Regions from separate parts of the Homo sapiens genome. Here region 2 is linked to region 1. The links come from fine-mapping of genetic effects on gene expression. A gene starts in region 1. The other region holds a variant in brackets. All regions are shown on one strand. Distances are from middle to middle.

Evidence for each region. PIP is the estimated chance that this variant, and not a neighbour inherited with it, causes the effect.
Region 2: its variant is the best candidate, but not a certain one, in a credible set for the expression of HAVCR1 in monocytes after R848 (Quach 2016, PIP 0.52).

The regions. Positions count from the first base shown.
Region 1 is chr5:157,055,052-157,063,851 of GRCh38, reverse strand. HAVCR1 (hepatitis A virus cellular receptor 1) reads left to right here and starts at 4,736. Exons shown (of 9, transcript NM_001173393.3): 1 at 4,736-4,931; 2 at 5,897-5,954; 3 at 8,319-8,651. The coding sequence starts at 5,909.
Region 2 is chr5:157,082,411-157,091,210 of GRCh38, reverse strand. HAVCR2 (hepatitis A virus cellular receptor 2) reads left to right here. Exons shown (of 7, transcript NM_032782.5): 6 at 2,234-2,270; 7 at 3,917-5,379. The coding sequence ends at 4,109. Among named protein-coding and RNA genes, the nearest start is that of HAVCR2, 22 kb to the left of the region's middle. The variant G/A (reference allele first, on the strand shown) is at 4,940.

The DNA.
Region 1 (8,800 bases):
GGCTAACTTCCTTGTCCTTTGTCTTAGTTCAAATAATCACCTTCTTGGTGAAAGTAATAGAGACTATTCAAACCTGACCACCTTGTTTAAAATTGCAACTCAGTGCCTCCTCAACCCTCCACTCCCAACCACCTTCACCCTGCTCTTGTGTATCCTTTTGCCTTTTTTGCATTAGCATTCCTCAACTTGTAATATGCTGATAAATTACATTTTAGTGATGTTTTAAAAATCTGTATATTTATTTTTCAGTTAAAAGTTAGTTACATGAGGCCAGGAGTGGTGCTCACGCCTATAATCCCAGCACTTTGGGAGGCCAAGGCGGGCAGATCACTTGAGGTCAGGAGTTCGTGACCAGCCTAACCAACATGGTGAAACCCCGTCTCTGCTAAAATTACAAAAATTAGCCGGTGTGGTGATGCATGCCTGTAATCCCAGCTTCTTGGGAGGCTGAGGTAGGAGAATCGCTTGAACCCAGGAGGCAGAGTTTGCAGTGAGCTGAGATCGTGCCATTGCCCTCCAGCCTGGGCAAAAAAAGCGAAGCTCCATCTCAAAAAAAAAAAAAAAAATGTAAGTTACATGAGGCCAGGGGTCTTTGGTTCATTGGTACATTCCAGATGAATAGGATCATTTCTAACATATCGCAGATCATCAACAAATAATTGTTAAATGAGTACACTTTTGGTATTTTTATATATTTTCTTTCTTTCTTTCTTTCTTTCTTTTTTTTTTTGAGACAGAATCTCGCTCTGTCACCCAGGCTGGAGTGCAGTGGTGTGTGATCTCAGCTCACTGCAACCTCCACCTCCCAGGTTCAAGCGATTCTCTTGCCTCAGCCTCCCTAGTATCTGAGACTACAGGCACGCGCCACCACGCCTGGCTAATTTTTGTAGTTTTAGTAGAGACAGGGGTTTGCCATATTGGCCAGGCTGGTCTTGAACTCCTAACCTCAAGTGATCCTCCTGCCTTGGCCTCCCAAAGTGCTGGGATTACAGGTGTGAGCCACCATACTTGGGCTTTTATGTATTTTCTATGGTAAACATAGGTGGTACCCTGTAATTTTTATATCTTTGTAAAAGATATAAAAAAAAGAAGCATTATATTACTTGTTATGAAATCAGAGGAGTAAGTGAAGGAAAATAACTAGCTTAGGGCAGTGGGCAGGGCAGGAAGAGAACTGAAAGGTAGGAAGACAGTTTTGGAGGGAATTGCAGAAGTCTGGATTATAGAGGCCTAATATAAAGTGATGGGGATGAGGGAGAGACTGACAGGTACAATGATGTGGAGTTGGTGAGTCCCTAGTTGTGGAGGGGGCCTAAGAAGATCTTGCTGTGGTGAAAGCATGGGGAATATGAACAGCTGAACTGTTTTGCAGGAGGCTGGAGCTGGAGGTACGATGTGCGCTGAGATAGCAGGGAAGTAAGTGGTGATTGCAAGAAAGAACAGTGAATTATTTTCTTTTCTGAATTCTTTCTTTTTTTTGAGACAGGGTGTCAATCTGTTGTCCAGGCTGGAGTGCAGTGGCACGATCTCAGCTCACTGCAACCTCCACCTCCCGGGTTCGAGCAATTCTCCTGCCTCAGCCTCCCAAGTAGCTGGGATTACAGGCACCCACCACCGTGCCCGGCCCATGTTCTGAATCATTTCAATTCACTGCCGTTAATCTTGGTTTATACAGATGCAGCTCCCTAGTGAGCAGCTGGAAATTCAGCTTTGGTGCCCAAGTATTGTCACTTCCAGCTTTACCCTACAACTGGGATGCATCCTTCAGGGGGGTCATGAAGTTTGCCCTAAAGAGTAGTGATCCCTGGAGGTTGTATAGCTCATTAAAAAAATCCACTGTGCTATATTGTTTGGGAGTCTTTAGAACACAGGCGTCTCTCATGGGAGATGGTCCTGTGTCAGAAAATTCAACCCTATGGAATTGTACAGTTATGTAACATCTCAGAGCCTTGGCTCCACATCCCTGTCCTGGCTCTCTCTGGCTCATCATTTCCTCCAGTTGAAACACCCTCCACCCATTCTTCTCACATGTCACTTTTTAAGAAATTCTTCCCACCCCCCACATTCCGTCATCAAAATGAATGGTCTTTCCCTATGGGTTTGTGTTTCCATTTGTTTATCTATTCAATTAATAACTTTTTTTTTTTTGAGAAGTCTCACTCTGTGGCCCAGGCCAGAGTGCAGTGGCATGATCTCCGCTCAGGGTAAATTCTGCCTCCCGGGTTCAGGCGATTCTCTTGCCTCAGCCTCCTGAGTAGCTGGGATTACAGGCACCCGCCACCACGCCTGGCTAATTTTTGCATTTTTGGTAGAGTTGGGTTTCACCATGTTGGCCAGGCTGGTTTGGAACCCCTGACCTCAAGTGATCCTCCCACCTCGGCCTCCTTTGGATTACAGGTGTGAGCAACCATGCCTGGCTTCAACACTTAAATTGCCTTAAAGGAGTTTATGGTCTGGAGTTGGGTGCCACACAACACAGTCACTATGTGTGACAATTTAAATTTTATTTTTTTGTTTTTAATTAATTTATTTTTTTGAAAGCTCTGTCATCTAAGGCTTGAGTGCAGTGGTGCCATCTCAACTCCCCGAAGACTGTCTCCTGGGCTCAAGCAATCTGAAATTTTAATTAAAATGAAATTAAATAAAAATTTTTAGGCCAGGCATGGCGGCTCACACCTGTAATTCCAGCACTTTTGGAAGTTGAGATGAGCGTATCACTTGAGGCCAGGAGTTCCAGCCCAGCCTGGCCAACATGGTGAAACTCCACCTCTGCTAAAAATACAAAAATTAGCCAGGCATGGTGGCGCGTGTCTGTAGTCCCAGCTACTCAGGAGACTGTGGCAAGAGAATCACTTAAACCCAGGAGATGGAGGTTGCACTGAGCTGAGATTGTGACACTGCACTCCAGCCTGGGTGACAGAGTCAGGCTCTGTCTTGGAAAAAAAAAAAATTAAAAATGCCTTGGTTGCCTTAGCCACATTTCAAGTGCTCAATAGTCATATGTGGCTAGTGGCTGCTGTAGTGCACGACACTCACACAGAATAACTCTGTAACCAATATTCTACTGGAGACAGAATCGATCCTATGGAATTCAAATTCAAATCCTATGGAATTGTACAGTTATGTAACATCTCAGAGCACTGGCTCCACATCCCTGTCTTGGCTCTCTGTGGCTCATCAGTTCCAGAATAACTCCGTTACCAGAATAACTCCATTACTAAAATTCTACCGGGCAGCACTCTATAGGAGGGAATAGAGACAGACACCACATATATTGCACACACAGATAAAATGGATTAAGGAAAACAAGATAATAATAGTGAGAGGGACTGGTTGGCTACTTTAGATTGAAGGACCTGTGAAAAATGTCCAGGGAGGTCATATTTAAGCCGGGATAAAAATGAAAAGGAAAAAAGTGAAAATGGTGGGGCTGGGGAGCTAGATGGAGAACACAGCCACGGAAAAGGCCTTAGGGTTGAGGCAAGTTGGAAAGAAAGCTCTAGTAGCTGGGGCTGAGTCAGCAGGGGAGAGAGTGGTAGAAGAAATCTATGGGGTAGGTCAGGGCCAGACCACCAGGGCTTCAGTAATTTGAGTAAAGATTTAGGAATTATTATTATTATTATTATTATTATTTTTCTGAGAGAGTTATGAGAGGGTTATAAGTGGGGGAATGATGTAGTCTGATTATATATTTACCTTTACCTCACTTATCCTGATTTCATTAGTTGCTTACTTACCCATGTCCCTGCCCGATTGCACAAGTCTGGATTTTTGACGTCCCTAGTATATTGAGTCATGTCCCATCAGCTCAATATGTTAGTAATAACTGGTTGAATTGAATTAGCTTTTTTTTTTCAATCTTTTTTTCCTTAAGAAACAGGGTCTTGCTCTGTCACCCCGGCTGGTGTGCAGTGGCACAATCATAGCCTCCAACTGCTGGGCTCAAGCAACCCTCCTGCCTCAGCCTCCTGAGTAGCTGGGACTACGGTCAGGTACACAAGGCCTGACTATATTTTTTGTTCGTTTTTTTTGCAGAGAGGGAGTCTTGCTATGTTGCCCAGGTTGGTCTCAAACTCCTTACCTCAGGTGATCCACTTGCCTTGGCCTCCCAAAGTGTTGGGATTACAGGCGTGAGCCACTGTGCCTGGCAAGAAATGAATTTTTATTTTTATTTTTGAGATGGAGTTTTGTTCTTGTTGTCCAGGCTAGAGTGCAATGGCTTGATCTCGGCTCACTGCAACCTCCACCTTCCAGGTTCAAGCAATTCTTCTACCTCAGCCTCCTAAGTAGCTGGGATTACAGGCGCCCGCCACCACCCCCAGCTAATTTTTGTATTTTTAGTAGAGTCGGGGTTTCACCGTGTTAGCCAGGCTGGTCTTGAACTCCCGACCTCAGGTGACTGGCCTACTCGGCCTCCCAAAGTGCTGGGGTTACAGGCACGAGCCACCATGCCCGGTCAAGAAATGAATTTTTAAACGCTGCCATACAAAACACTATGCTGAGATCATCCACTTCCCCATGAACCCTGTCATGAGCTGCAAGATACAGACCACCACTGCCTCCTTGGAAGTTACTGAATTCTTAGACCAGAAGAGGAGTTAATGAAGTACTAGGCAAGCTTACTCATGTTTGTATGGTTTAATGATTAACAGCAGAAGTCAACAGCCCGATTTAACGCATGTGGGTGCTTGACACAGAGCCTGCTATATAGTATTCTCCAAAAACCTCAGCTAGTGCTATTACTGCATATGATGTAGGTTTAGTTTTCCAAGTTCTTCCGTGGCCCTTTTTGCTTATTATATCAATCCTTGGTGGGAGATAGAGGAAGCATTTTTAGTGCTATTTTACAACTGAGGAAATAGAGGTTTGAAGAGAACTCAGGAACTCTCAGGGTTACCCAGCATTGTGAGTGACAGAGCCTGGATCTGAACGTAAGTCTGCTCCAGACTTCTGTTTCCTGAAGCATTCTCTTGAAGTCCCTTGGTAAGGAGGTGTAGTCTGAAGCATGTTGTACAGGAGCATGAAAGGTTAGGCACAGTGATTCACATTCACTCTCAATTTCTCTTGCTAATGGCAAACTTGGCAATATGACTGTTAAGGCTAGGGATAAGTCGTTGTGGCCACTGAGTAGGAAAAGCTCCACGTCCACCAGAGGCCCAGTTTACTCTGAAAAGCAAGTGCATCTCTGCCACTGGAAGGCTGGCATTTGCTCTCGTGCTGCCATTGAGCCACGCTGGTTCTCTGCTTCCAGTTTCCTTTTCTTTTCTTTTTTTTTGTTTTGTTTTTTGAGACGGAGTCTTGCTCTGTCGCCCAGGCTGGAGTGCAGTGGCGCGATCTCGGCTCACCGCAAGCTCCGCCTCCCGCGGGTTCACGCCATTCTCCTGCCTCAGCCTCCCGAGTAGCTGGGACTACAGGCGCCAGTGACCACGCCCGGCTAATTTTTTGTATTTTTAGTAGAGACGGGGTTTCACCCTTTTAGCCAGGATGGTCTCGATCTCCTGACTTCGTGATCTGCCCGCCTTGGCCTCCCAAAGTGCTAGGATTACAGGTTTGAGCCACCGCGCCCGGCCCTGTTTCCTTTTTGTTTGTTCCCCTGATACCCTGTATCAGGACCAGGAGTCAGTTTGGCGGTTATGTGTGGGGAAGAAGCTGGGAAGTCAGGGGCTGTTTCTGTGGACAGCTTTCCCTGTCCTTTGGAAGGCACAGAGCTCTCAGCTGCAGGGAACTAACAGAGCTCTGAAGCCGTTATATGTGGTCTTCTCTCATTTCCAGCAGAGCAGGCTCATATGAATCAACCAACTGGGTGAAAAGATAAGTTGCAATCTGAGATTTAAGACTTGATCAGATACCATCTGGTGGAGGGTACCAACCAGCCTGTCTGCTCATTTTCCTTCAGGCTGATCCCATAATGCATCCTCAAGTGGTCATCTTAAGCCTCATCCTACATCTGGCAGGTAAGTGAGTAGGTGCCCTGGGCGGGAAGAAGGGAGTAGAGGGGGGTTAGAAGCCAGAGAATGGGGTAGGGGAAGGGGAGGGGATGGTGGTGGTGGATTAATGTAGATGTTCTTTGGGTACCGTTGTATGGCTATGAGTTAACTAGTGAGCAGGACCAGAATAAAGTTTTAGGCCAAAGAAATTGCTTAACTGCTGTGAATTACAACATTCATGGCTAAATGAACAAGGCAAGATGCAGCACAGTGTGTCACAGGCTGCCCTTTGTGTTTAAACAAAAAGGGTGTGGTTAGATGTATATGCATAGACACATGTATATAGGAAATAGTGACAGTGGGTAATGTGGGATGGGGGCAGAGGGTGGGAGGTGGAGGGAGAGTTAATCCTTATTGTATTTTTTTGTGCCTTCCGATTTTTTTCAGCCACATTCAATTCTCTTTCTTTCTTTCTTTCTTTCTTTCTTTCTTTCTTTCTTTCTTTCTTTCTTTCTTTCTTTCTTTCTTTCTTTCTTTCCTCTCTCTCTCTCTCTCTCTCTCTTCATGAGGTCTCACTCTGGAGTGCAGTAGGGCAATCTTTTTTTTTTTGAGACAGAGTCTCACTCTGTCGCCCAGGCTAGAGTTCAGTGGCGTGATCTCGGCTCACTGCAGCCTCCGCCTCCTGGGTTCAAGCAATTCTCTGCCTCAGTCTCCCAAGTAGCTGGGATTACAGGTACCTGCCACCACTACCAGCTAATTTTTTTGTATTTTTAGTAGAGACAAGGTTTCCCCATCTTGGCCAAGCTGATCTTGAACTCCTGACCTTGTGATCCACCTGCCTCGGCCTCCCAAAGTGCTGGAATTATAGGCGTGAGTCACCGCGCCTGGCCTAGTTGGGCAATCTTGATTCACTGCAACCTCGACCTCCTGGGCTCAAGTGATTCTCCCACCTCAGTCTCCCAAAGTGCTGGGATTATAGGCGTTAGCCACCACATCTGGCCTAAGTATTTTATTTTGAAATAAACACTTTAATTCAAAACATTCTATGAGATAAGGAAAGAGTAAAATAGACATATCCTAATTTTTAAACACAAATTTCTGGAGTGATATATGCCTTTGGGATTATGGGGGAAAAATAATCTCTCATTATATACTTCTATAACCAAATTGTAATAGCATGCATTATATGTGTAATCCAAAAAAATGATACTAGTATTAGGCAAAATTAAACAAGAATTTCTTGGTGGCCGGGCGTGGTGGCTCACACCTGTAATCCCAGCACTTTGGGAGGCCAAGGCGGGCAGATCACGAGGTCAGGAAATCGAGACCATCCTGGCTAACATGGTGAAACCCCGTCTCTACTAAAAATACAAAAAAATTAGCCGGGCGTGGCGGCGTGTGCCTGTAGTCTCAGCTGCTGGGGAGGCTGAGGCGGGAGAATGGCGTGAACCTGGGAGGCGGAGCTTGCAGTGAGCCGAGATCACACCACTGCACTCCAGCCTGGGCGACAGAGCAAGACTCTGTCTCAAAAAAAAAAAAGAAGAAATTCTTTTTAGAAAGACTTTGTCTAAAAAAAAAAATTAAAAGAATGCTAGCATAGAAAAATGCTTATAATCTCAAATTTTAAAAATTCCAGCTATATCAGCTAACTTGGAAAAAGGGGAAAAACCTTCCAGCTATAATGTCTATTTACAAGGCTGGGCATGGTGGCTCATGCCTGTAATCCCAGCACTTTGGGATGCTCAGGTGGGTGGATCACTTGAGGTCAGGAGTTCAAGACTAGCCTGTCTCTACTAAAAATACAAAAATTAGCCGGGCGTGGTGGCATGTGCCTGTAATCCCAGCTACTTGGGAGGCTGATGCATGAGAATTGCTTGAACCCAGGAGGCGGGGGTAGCAGTGAGCCAAGATCTTTGCGCCACTGCACTACAGCCTGGGTGACAGAGCAAGACTCTGTCTTAAAAAAATAAAAAATAAACAATTAAAAAATGAATAAAATATTTTTTTAAAGAAAGTAAAACAAGTAAAAAAAATTAAGAGAATTTTTTTTTGGGGGAGGGGGAGACAGAGTCTGCTCTGTCACCCAGGCTGGAGTGTAGTGGCACGAGCTCAGCTTGCTGCAACCTCCGCCTCCCAGGTTCAAGCACTTCTCCCTGCCTTAGCCTCCTGAGTAGCTGGGATTACACCACTACACCCCGCTAATTTTTGTAATTTTTTTTTTAGTAGAGATCGGGTTTTGCCATGTTGGCTAGGCTGGTCTTGAACTCCTGACCTGGGTTGATCTGCCTGCCTTGGTCTCCCAAAGTTCTTGGATTACAGGCGTGAGCCATTGTGCCCAGCCAAGATGAAATAGTGAGGGCTCATTCTCAGTTTGTCTTTTCTTCTTTGCAGATTCTGTAGCTGGTTCTGTAAAGGTTGGTGGAGAGGCAGGTCCATCTGTCACACTACCCTGCCACTACAGTGGAGCTGTCACATCCATGTGCTGGAATAGAGGCTCATGTTCTCTATTCACATGCCAAAATGGCATTGTCTGGACCAATGGAACCCACGTCACCTATCGGAAGGACACACGCTATAAGCTATTGGGGGACCTTTCAAGAAGGGATGTCTCTTTGACCATAGAAAATACAGCTGTGTCTGACAGTGGCGTATATTGTTGCCGTGTTGAGCACCGTGGGTGGTTCAATGACATGAAAATCACCGTATCATTGGAGATTGTGCCACGTAAGTTTTTCTTTGATATTTCTTGCTAGTTAATTGAATTTTCTGTTCGGTAGTAATTTTCTTTTTTCTTAATAGGGAAAGAGGAGGTTCCCGTAAGTCCTGTTTTTAAATAAACTCTTGTTCTTGGGAAATAGAATAACTTTTGTGTA
Region 2 (8,800 bases), 27 kb before region 1:
GGCCTCCCAAAGTGCTGGGATTATAGGCGTGAGCCACCGTTCCCAGCCTGATACCTTTATCTTTATTATAGTCAACCTTTTAAATTGATCACTCATTCTAGAAAGTCCTCCTTCTCTTGGCTTCTGAAATGACATTCTTCTCTTTGATCCATTGCTTTTCAGATCTTCTTCTGCCTGATCCTTAGATGTTGAGATTCCTTAGGGCTGGGTATGGTGGTGCACGCCTATCGTCCCAGCTACTCAGGAGAATGAAGCAGGAAGATCACTTGAGCCCAGGAGTTTGAGGCTATGAACTATGATCTTGCTGCTGCATTCTAGCCTGGGTGACACAGCACAGGGAGACCCTGTCTCAGAGAAAAACAACAACAGAAGATTCCTGCAGTCTTCCTCCAACATACATCTAAAGTGTTTTCATTATTCTGCATCTCTTTTGGCCATTCCTTACTCCAAGACACCATTATTTCTACTTAATTTATCTTCTCATTTCTTTATTCCTCCTTCGAATCCAATATTAAAACCCAAATCAATGTCTGAGCACAATGGCTCATGCCTATAATCCTAACACTTCGGGAGGCCAAGACAGGAGAGTCACTTGAGGCCAGGAGTTTGAGACTAGCCTGGGCAACATATTGAGATTCACCCAGGCTGGAGTGCAGTGGTGTGATCATGGCTCACTGCAACCTCTACCTCCCGAGTTCAAGCAACTCTCCTGCCTCAGCCTCCAAGTAGCTAGGACCACGGGCATGTGCCAGCATACCTGGCTAGTTTTTGTATTTTTAGTAGAGATGAGGTTTTACCATGTTGCCCAGGCTGGTCTCGAACTCCCAAGCTCAAGAAATCCACCTGCCTTGCCTCCCAAAGTGCTAGGATTACAGGCGTGAGCCACTGCATCCAGCCCAAAAACATTAAAAAAAATTATCCAGCTGTGGTAGTGTGCACCTATAGTTCTAGCTACTCAGAAGCTGAGATGGGTAGATCCCTTGAGCCCAGGAGTTCAAAGTTGCAATCAGATATGATCTTACTACTGCATTCCAGCCTGGCCAACAGAGCAAGACCCTGTCTCAAAAAAAAAAAAAAAAAAAAAAAAAGAAAAGAAAAGAAAGGAAAATTTTAAGTTTCAAATTTTTGAAACTGCATCCCCAGAAGACACCTTGAAAGACCTTGATCCAGAGGTACCCAGTAAGCCACACCTGGATTCCTGACCCACAACACAGAAATGATGAGATAACGTAGTTGTTTTCAGCGGGTAAAAGAAACCCAAAACAAATAAGGATCACATCTCTGCCCTTCAAGGAAATCTAAGGTTTCCTACAGGTCTTAGAATAAAATCCAGACTCCTGATTATGGCTGGAAAGGTCTTATTGGACCTAGCCCCAGCCTACCTTTCAGACCTTATCTTGGGCCGCTCCCTTAATCCAGCCACGTTTTCAGTTTCAGGTACTCAGCAAGATCTTTACAAGGGGCTCCCTCATCCTGGAATGCTCCTTCTGGCTCTTTACTTGGCTGACTCATTTCAGAAACGAGCTTAAAGTTCATCTCTGAGGGTCCTTCCCTGACCACCCTCTCTATTATCTGTTTCACTATGATGTTGGTTTCCTTTATAATACATCATAATTTGAAATTATTTTGTTTTCCTATTTACTATTTCCTTTTTGTTGTTGTTTTTTTTTTTTTGAGACGGAGTTTCGCTCTCGTTGCCCAGGCTGGAGTGCAATGGCGCAATCTTGGCTCACCGCAACCTCCGTCTCCCGGGTTCATGTGATTCTCCTGCCTCAGCCTCCCGAGTAGCTGGGATTACAGGCATGGGCCACCACATCCAGCTAATTTTGTATTTTTAGTAGAGACGGGGTTTCTCCATGTTGGTCAGGCTGGTCTTGGGTCTGGGGTACTGTTTTCTTTTATTTCTTTGGTCTCCCACAGGAGAGCGTGAGCTTCGTGAAATTAGGGCTCACAATTCACTTTTATGTTCCTGTGTTCCTTGTGCCAGGCAAACTGCCAGACACATAGTAGAGGTCTCATAATATTTGTTAAATAAGAAAAATGCATCTTTATTATTATTTTCTAACACAGTCCATATAACTATCTAAGGCACACGTTGAGAGTTTCATTTAACTCAATCTGAGATGAGACCAGATTTCCCTAAACTATGCGTGCTTCCAGTGAACCTATTTGATTTCTTGTCTCATTTATTTTATGAATGCATTTTTATTGGCTTTTGTTTCCCCCTTACTAGGGTATTCTCATAGCAAAGAGAAGATACAGAATTTAAGGTAAGAATAATGGAATGGGGTTGGGAAAAGGTGAGAATCTTGGAAGTCCCTACTCTAACATGTCTGATCTTTTCTCTGAGAAATCCTGTCCTGGGGCTTTGAGATCTGAGTTTATACTTCCTTCTTTCTCTAGGTCTAGTTATGAAGTGAAAATGTAACATGCTACTGTGTGTACTTCCTGACACCTCTAGCTTCTTTAGTTCTAAAGTTAAGGTATAGAATTTATCACCCTAATAATACAACATGCTTATTCATCTCGATATTAATGGTTTTTCCACTGAACTGAAACATCAACGGATTGAGCTCCTATTATATCCAGGGTCTGGGCTGCACTTAGGCGTTACAGAAGTGAGCAAGAAACCCAGTATCTGTTCTCAGCATTTCTGTAAACAGCCCAGGCATTTTCAACTTTAGTTTCCTATTAGAATCACCCAGGCACTGAAGTGTACTAATGCAGGGCCAACCCCAGAGCAACTGAATCAGAATCTCTGGGGATGAAGCCTAAGCATAGAAATTGTTCTAAAAGCTCTCCAGGTGATTCTAGTGAACAGTCAGGGCTGAGAACTGCTAGTCTGTTATAGACTCCTGTCTTGACCTTCGTTCCTGATTATACACACCCACACATCCATTTCAAATAGGTATGGCTTACATAACTTACTAGATTTTAGACTTTTAGTGATGTTTGGCACATGAATGGAATACAATATATTTGGATTACAAAAATGATTCTGGGCTAGGTGCTGTGGCTTACGCCTATAAGCCCAGCACTTTGGGAGGCTGAGGTGGGAGGATCACATGAGCCCAGGAGTTCAAGACCAGCCTGGGCAACATGATGAGACCTCTTCTCTACAAAAAAATGGAAACATTAGGTGGAAGGATTGCTGGAGCACAGGAGATGAAGGCTGCAATGAGCCATGATTGTGCCACTGCATTCCCACCTGGGTGACAGAGAAAGACCCAGCATCAAACAAAACAAAACAAAAACCTCTGTCCATTGAATGCTATCTAAAGCATTAATAATTTTTTTTTTTTTTTTTTGAGACGGAGTCTGGCTCTGTCACCCAGGCTGGAGTGCAGTGGCACAACCTCGGCTCACTATAACCTCTGCTTCTCGGGTTCAAGCGATTCTCTGCATTAGCCTCCCAAGTAGCTGGGATTACAGGTGCATGCCACCACGCTGGCTAATTTTTTGTATGTTTAGTAGAGACGGGGTTTCACTATGTTGGCCAGGCTGGTCTCGAACTCCTGACCTCGTGATCTGCCAGGCTCAGCCTCCCAAAGTGCTGGGATTACAGGCGTGAGCCACGGCGCCCGGCCCATTTTTTGAAAATCTAAATGTGTACATAATTGCAGACATCTTGATACTTCACCTAAACTTCAGCCTGCACCTCCGAGAAATAAAAATATTCTCTTAGCTATCACAATGCTGTTGTTATACCTAAGAAAATTAAAATTAATGGACATTTTCTCAATTGTTTCCCCATAGTATTTTATTGCTATTTCTTGGCTTTTCCACTTGTTCAGCATCTGATCAAAGATCATGCACTATATTTAGTTGCTGTCTCTTTGGGAAAGCCTATTCTCTTAACTCTATTCCGTGTTACCTGGGAAATGCTTAACTCAACCGCAACACTTTATTTCCACAGCCTCATCTCTTTGGCCAACCTCCCTCCCTCAGGATTGGCAAATGCAGTAGCAGAGGGAATTCGCTCAGAAGAAAACATCTATACCATTGAAGAGAACGTATATGAAGTGGAGGAGCCCAATGAGTATTATTGCTATGTCAGCAGCAGGCAGCAACCCTCACAACCTTTGGGTTGTCGCTTTGCAATGCCATAGATCCAACCACCTTATTTTTGAGCTTGGTGTTTTGTCTTTTTCAGAAACTATGAGCTGTGTCACCTGACTGGTTTTGGAGGTTCTGTCCACTGCTATGGAGCAGAGTTTTCCCATTTTCAGAAGATAATGACTCACATGGGAATTGAACTGGGACCTGCACTGAACTTAAACAGGCATGTCATTGCCTCTGTATTTAAGCCAACAGAGTTACCCAACCCAGAGACTGTTAATCATGGATGTTAGAGCTCAAACGGGCTTTTATATACACTAGGAATTCTTGACGTGGGGTCTCTGGAGCTCCAGGAAATTCGGGCACATCATATGTCCATGAAACTTCAGATAAACTAGGGAAAACTGGGTGCTGAGGTGAAAGCATAACTTTTTTGGCACAGAAAGTCTAAAGGGGCCACTGATTTTCAAAGAGATCTGTGATCCCTTTTTGTTTTTTGTTTTTGAGATGGAGTCTTGCTCTGTTGCCCAGGCTGGAGTGCAATGGCACAATCTCGGCTCACTGCAAGCTCCGCCTCCTGGGTTCAAGCGATTCTCCTGCCTCAGCCTCCTGAGTGGCTGGGATTACAGGCATGCACCACCATGCCCAGCTAATTTGTTGTATTTTTAGTAGAGACAGGGTTTCACCATGTTGGCCAGTGTGGTCTCAAACTCCTGACCTCATGATTTGCCTGCCTCGGCCTCCCAAAGCACTGGGATTACAGGCGTGAGCCACCACATCCAGCCAGTGATCCTTAAAAGATTAAGAGATGACTGGACCAGGTCTACCTTGATCTTGAAGATTCCCTTGGAATGTTGAGATTTAGGCTTATTTGAGCACT[G/A]CCTGCCCAACTGTCAGTGCCAGTGCATAGCCCTTCTTTTGTCTCCCTTATGAAGACTGCCCTGCAGGGCTGAGATGTGGCAGGAGCTCCCAGGGAAAAACGAAGTGCATTTGATTGGTGTGTATTGGCCAAGTTTTGCTTGTTGTGTGCTTGAAAGAAAATATCTCTGACCAACTTCTGTATTCGTGGACCAAACTGAAGCTATATTTTTCACAGAAGAAGAAGCAGTGACGGGGACACAAATTCTGTTGCCTGGTGGAAAGAAGGCAAAGGCCTTCAGCAATCTATATTACCAGCGCTGGATCCTTTGACAGAGAGTGGTCCCTAAACTTAAATTTCAAGACGGTATAGGCTTGATCTGTCTTGCTTATTGTTGCCCCCTGCGCCTAGCACAATTCTGACACACAATTGGAACTTACTAAAAATTTTTTTTTACTGTTTTTTGTTTGTTTGTTTGTTTTTTGAGATAGAATCTCGCTCTGTCTGAGTTCATTGTAGATTCTGGATATTAGCCCTTTGTCAGATGAGTAGGTTGCGAAAATTTTCTCCCATTTTATAGGTTGCCTGTTCACTCTGATGGTAGTTTCTTTTGCTGTGCAGAAGCTCTTTAGTTTAATTAGATCCCATTTGTCAATTTTGGCTTTTGTGGCCATTGCTTTTGGTGTTTTAGACATGAAGTCCTTGCCCATGCCTATGTCCTGAATGGTAATGTCTAGGTTTTCTTCTAGGGTTTTTAGGGTTTTAGGTCTAACGTTTAAGTCTTTAATCCATCTTGAATTAATTTTTGTATAAGGTGTAAGGAAGGGATCCAGTTTCAGCTTTCTACATATGGCTAGCCAGTTTTCCCAGCACCATTTATTAAATAGGGAATCCTTTCCCCATTGCTTGTTTTTCTCAGGTTTGTCAAAGATCAGATAGTTGTAGATATGCGGCATTATTTCTGAGGGCTCTGTTCTGTTCCATTGATCTATATCTCTGTTTTGGTACCAGTACCATGCTGTTTTGATTACTGTAGACTTGTAGTATAGTTTGAAGTCAGGTAGCGTGATGCCTCCAGCTTTGTTCTTTTGGCTTAGGATTGACTTGGTGATGCGGGCTCTTTTTTGGTTCCATATGAACTTTAAAGTAGTTTTTTCCAATTCTGTGAAGAAAGTCATTGGTAGCTTGATGGGGATGGCATTGAATCTATAAATTACCTTGGGCAGTATGGCCATTTTCACCATATTGATTCTTCCTACCCATGAGCATGGAATGTTCTTCCATTTGTTTGTATCCTCTTTTATTTCATTGAGCAGTGGTTTGTAGTTCTCCTTGAAGAGGTCCTTTACGTCCCTTGTAAGTTGGATTCCTAGGTATTTTATTCTCTTTGAAGCAATTGTGAATGGGAGTTCACTCATGATTTGGCTCTGTTTGAACTCAAACAAATTTACAAGAAAAAAACAAACAACCCCATCAAAAAGTAGGCAAAGGATATGAACAGACACTTCTCAAAAGAGGACATTTATGCAGCCAAAAGACACATTAGAAAATGCTCATCATCACTGGCCATCAGAGAAATGCAAATCAAAACCACAATGAGATACCATCTCACACCAGTTAGAATGGCAATCATTAAAAAGTCAGGAAACAACAGGTGCTGGAGAGGATGTGGAGAAATAGGAACACTTTTACACTGTTGGTGGGACTGTAAAGTAGTTCAACCTTTGTGGAAGTCAGTGTGGCAATTCCTCAGGGATCTAGAACTAGAAATACCATTTGACCCCACCATCCCATTACTGGGTATATACCCAAAGGACTATAAATCATGCTGCTATAAAGGCACATGCACACGTATGTTTATTGTGGCACTATTCACAATAGCAAAGACTTGGAACCAACCCAAATGTCTGACAATGATAGACCGGATTAAGAAAATGTGGCACATATACACCATGGAATACTATGCAGCCATAAGAAATGATGAGTTCATGTCCTTTGTAGGGACATGGATGAAATTGGAAATCATCATTCTCAGTAAACTATTGCAAGGACAAAAACCCAAACACCGCATGTTCTCACTCATAGATGGGAATTGAACAATGAGAACACATGGACATAGGAAGGGGAACATCATACTCTGGGGACTGTTGTGGGGTGGGGGAAGGGGGGAGGGATAGCATTAGGAGATATACCTAATGCTAAATGACGAGTTAATGGGTGCAGCACACCAGCATGGCACATGTATACATATGTAACTAACAGGCACACTGTGCACATGTACCCTAAAACTTAAAGTATAATAATAATAATAATAATAATAATAATAATAATAATAATAATAATAAAAGAATCTCACTCTGTCGCCCAGGCTGGAGTGCAGTGGCATGATCTTCACTCACTGCAGCCTTGACCTCCTGGGCACAATTCACTCTTCTGCCTCAGCCTCCCCAGTAGCTGGGACTATAGCCATGCACCACCATGCCAAGCTAATTTGCATAGTTTTAGTAGAGACAAGGTTTCACCATGTTGGCTAGGCTGGTCTCAATCTCCTGGGCTCAAGCAATCCCCCCTGCCTCGACTTCCCAAAGTGCTGGGATTTGAGGCGTGAGCCACCGTGCCCGGACTAAATATTTTTGGAGTGAAAAACTTAAATAATCAGAAAGGTAGCTTTCTGGAAGACTTCCATTAGACAGCTCAGAGAGAGTGTGACTCTGCAAGTTCACTTCTTAGGGAACTCACAAATACCCAGAAGCTCCCATATTCACTCTTTTGTTTGTTTGTTTGTTTTGAGACAGAGTCTCACTCTGTTGCCCAGGCTGGAGTGCAGTGGCACAATCTCGGCTCATCACAACCTGTGCATCCTGGGTTCAAGCGATTCTCCTGCCTCAGCCTCCCAAGTAGCTGGGACTACAGGCATGCACCACCACACCCAGCTAATTTTTGTATTTTTAGTAGAGACGGGGTTTCACTATGTTGGCCAGGCTGGTCTTAAGCTCCTGACTGTGTGATCTGACCGCCTCGACCTCCCACATTGCTGGGATTACAGGTGTGACCCACTGTGCCCAGCCCCATATTAACTCTTATCCAGGCCAAAGTGGCCTTTGTTTCTCAACATTGTTCAGCTCAGGCCTTTGTTGGGGTCTTACTCTTTTGTCTATTTCCTTCTTTCTGCTGAGCCATCCTCAGCACATCGGAATGAATTAACAATATGGGCCTATCACTGCCTAAAAACTGGTCCTCCCCAGGTGATGACTAAGCTGTGATTGTGTTGCATGCAGAAGATGTTGGCCAGCAAGGCTGTCGCCAGCCTGCTTGTTTCTAGAAGTCTTTCTGACAGTCTCGTGTGAATTAGAGCATTGGGCTGCATCTAGATAGTTTCGGGACAGACTGACATTCTGTAGGCAGATACGTAAGGGAGATCATTTTGCAAAATTAATTGTAGGGAACAGCTCTCATACAGGCTAAAAAATTAATCTGAACTGTCTTTTTAAATTTTTTGACATAGAGTCTTGCTCTGTCGCCCAGGGTGGAGTGCATTGGTACAATCTTGGCTCACTGCAACCTCCACCTCCTGAGTTCAAGTGATTCTCCTACCAAAGCCTCCCAAATAGCTGGGATTACAGGTGCACATCACCACACTCGGCTAATTTTTTGTATTTTTAGTAGAGATGAGGTTTTGCCATATTGACCAGGCTGGTCTCGAACTCCTGACCTCAGGTGATCCACTCGCCTCGGCCTCCCAAAGTTCTGGGATTACAGGCGTTGGGTTATCGTGCCCAGCCCATAAGTGTCTTAATGCCATGAAATCCTAGTGAGAAGAAACTTCACGACACATTTGAAGCAGATCAATGGTCCCCCTCAAAAGACATTCTTATCCTACCA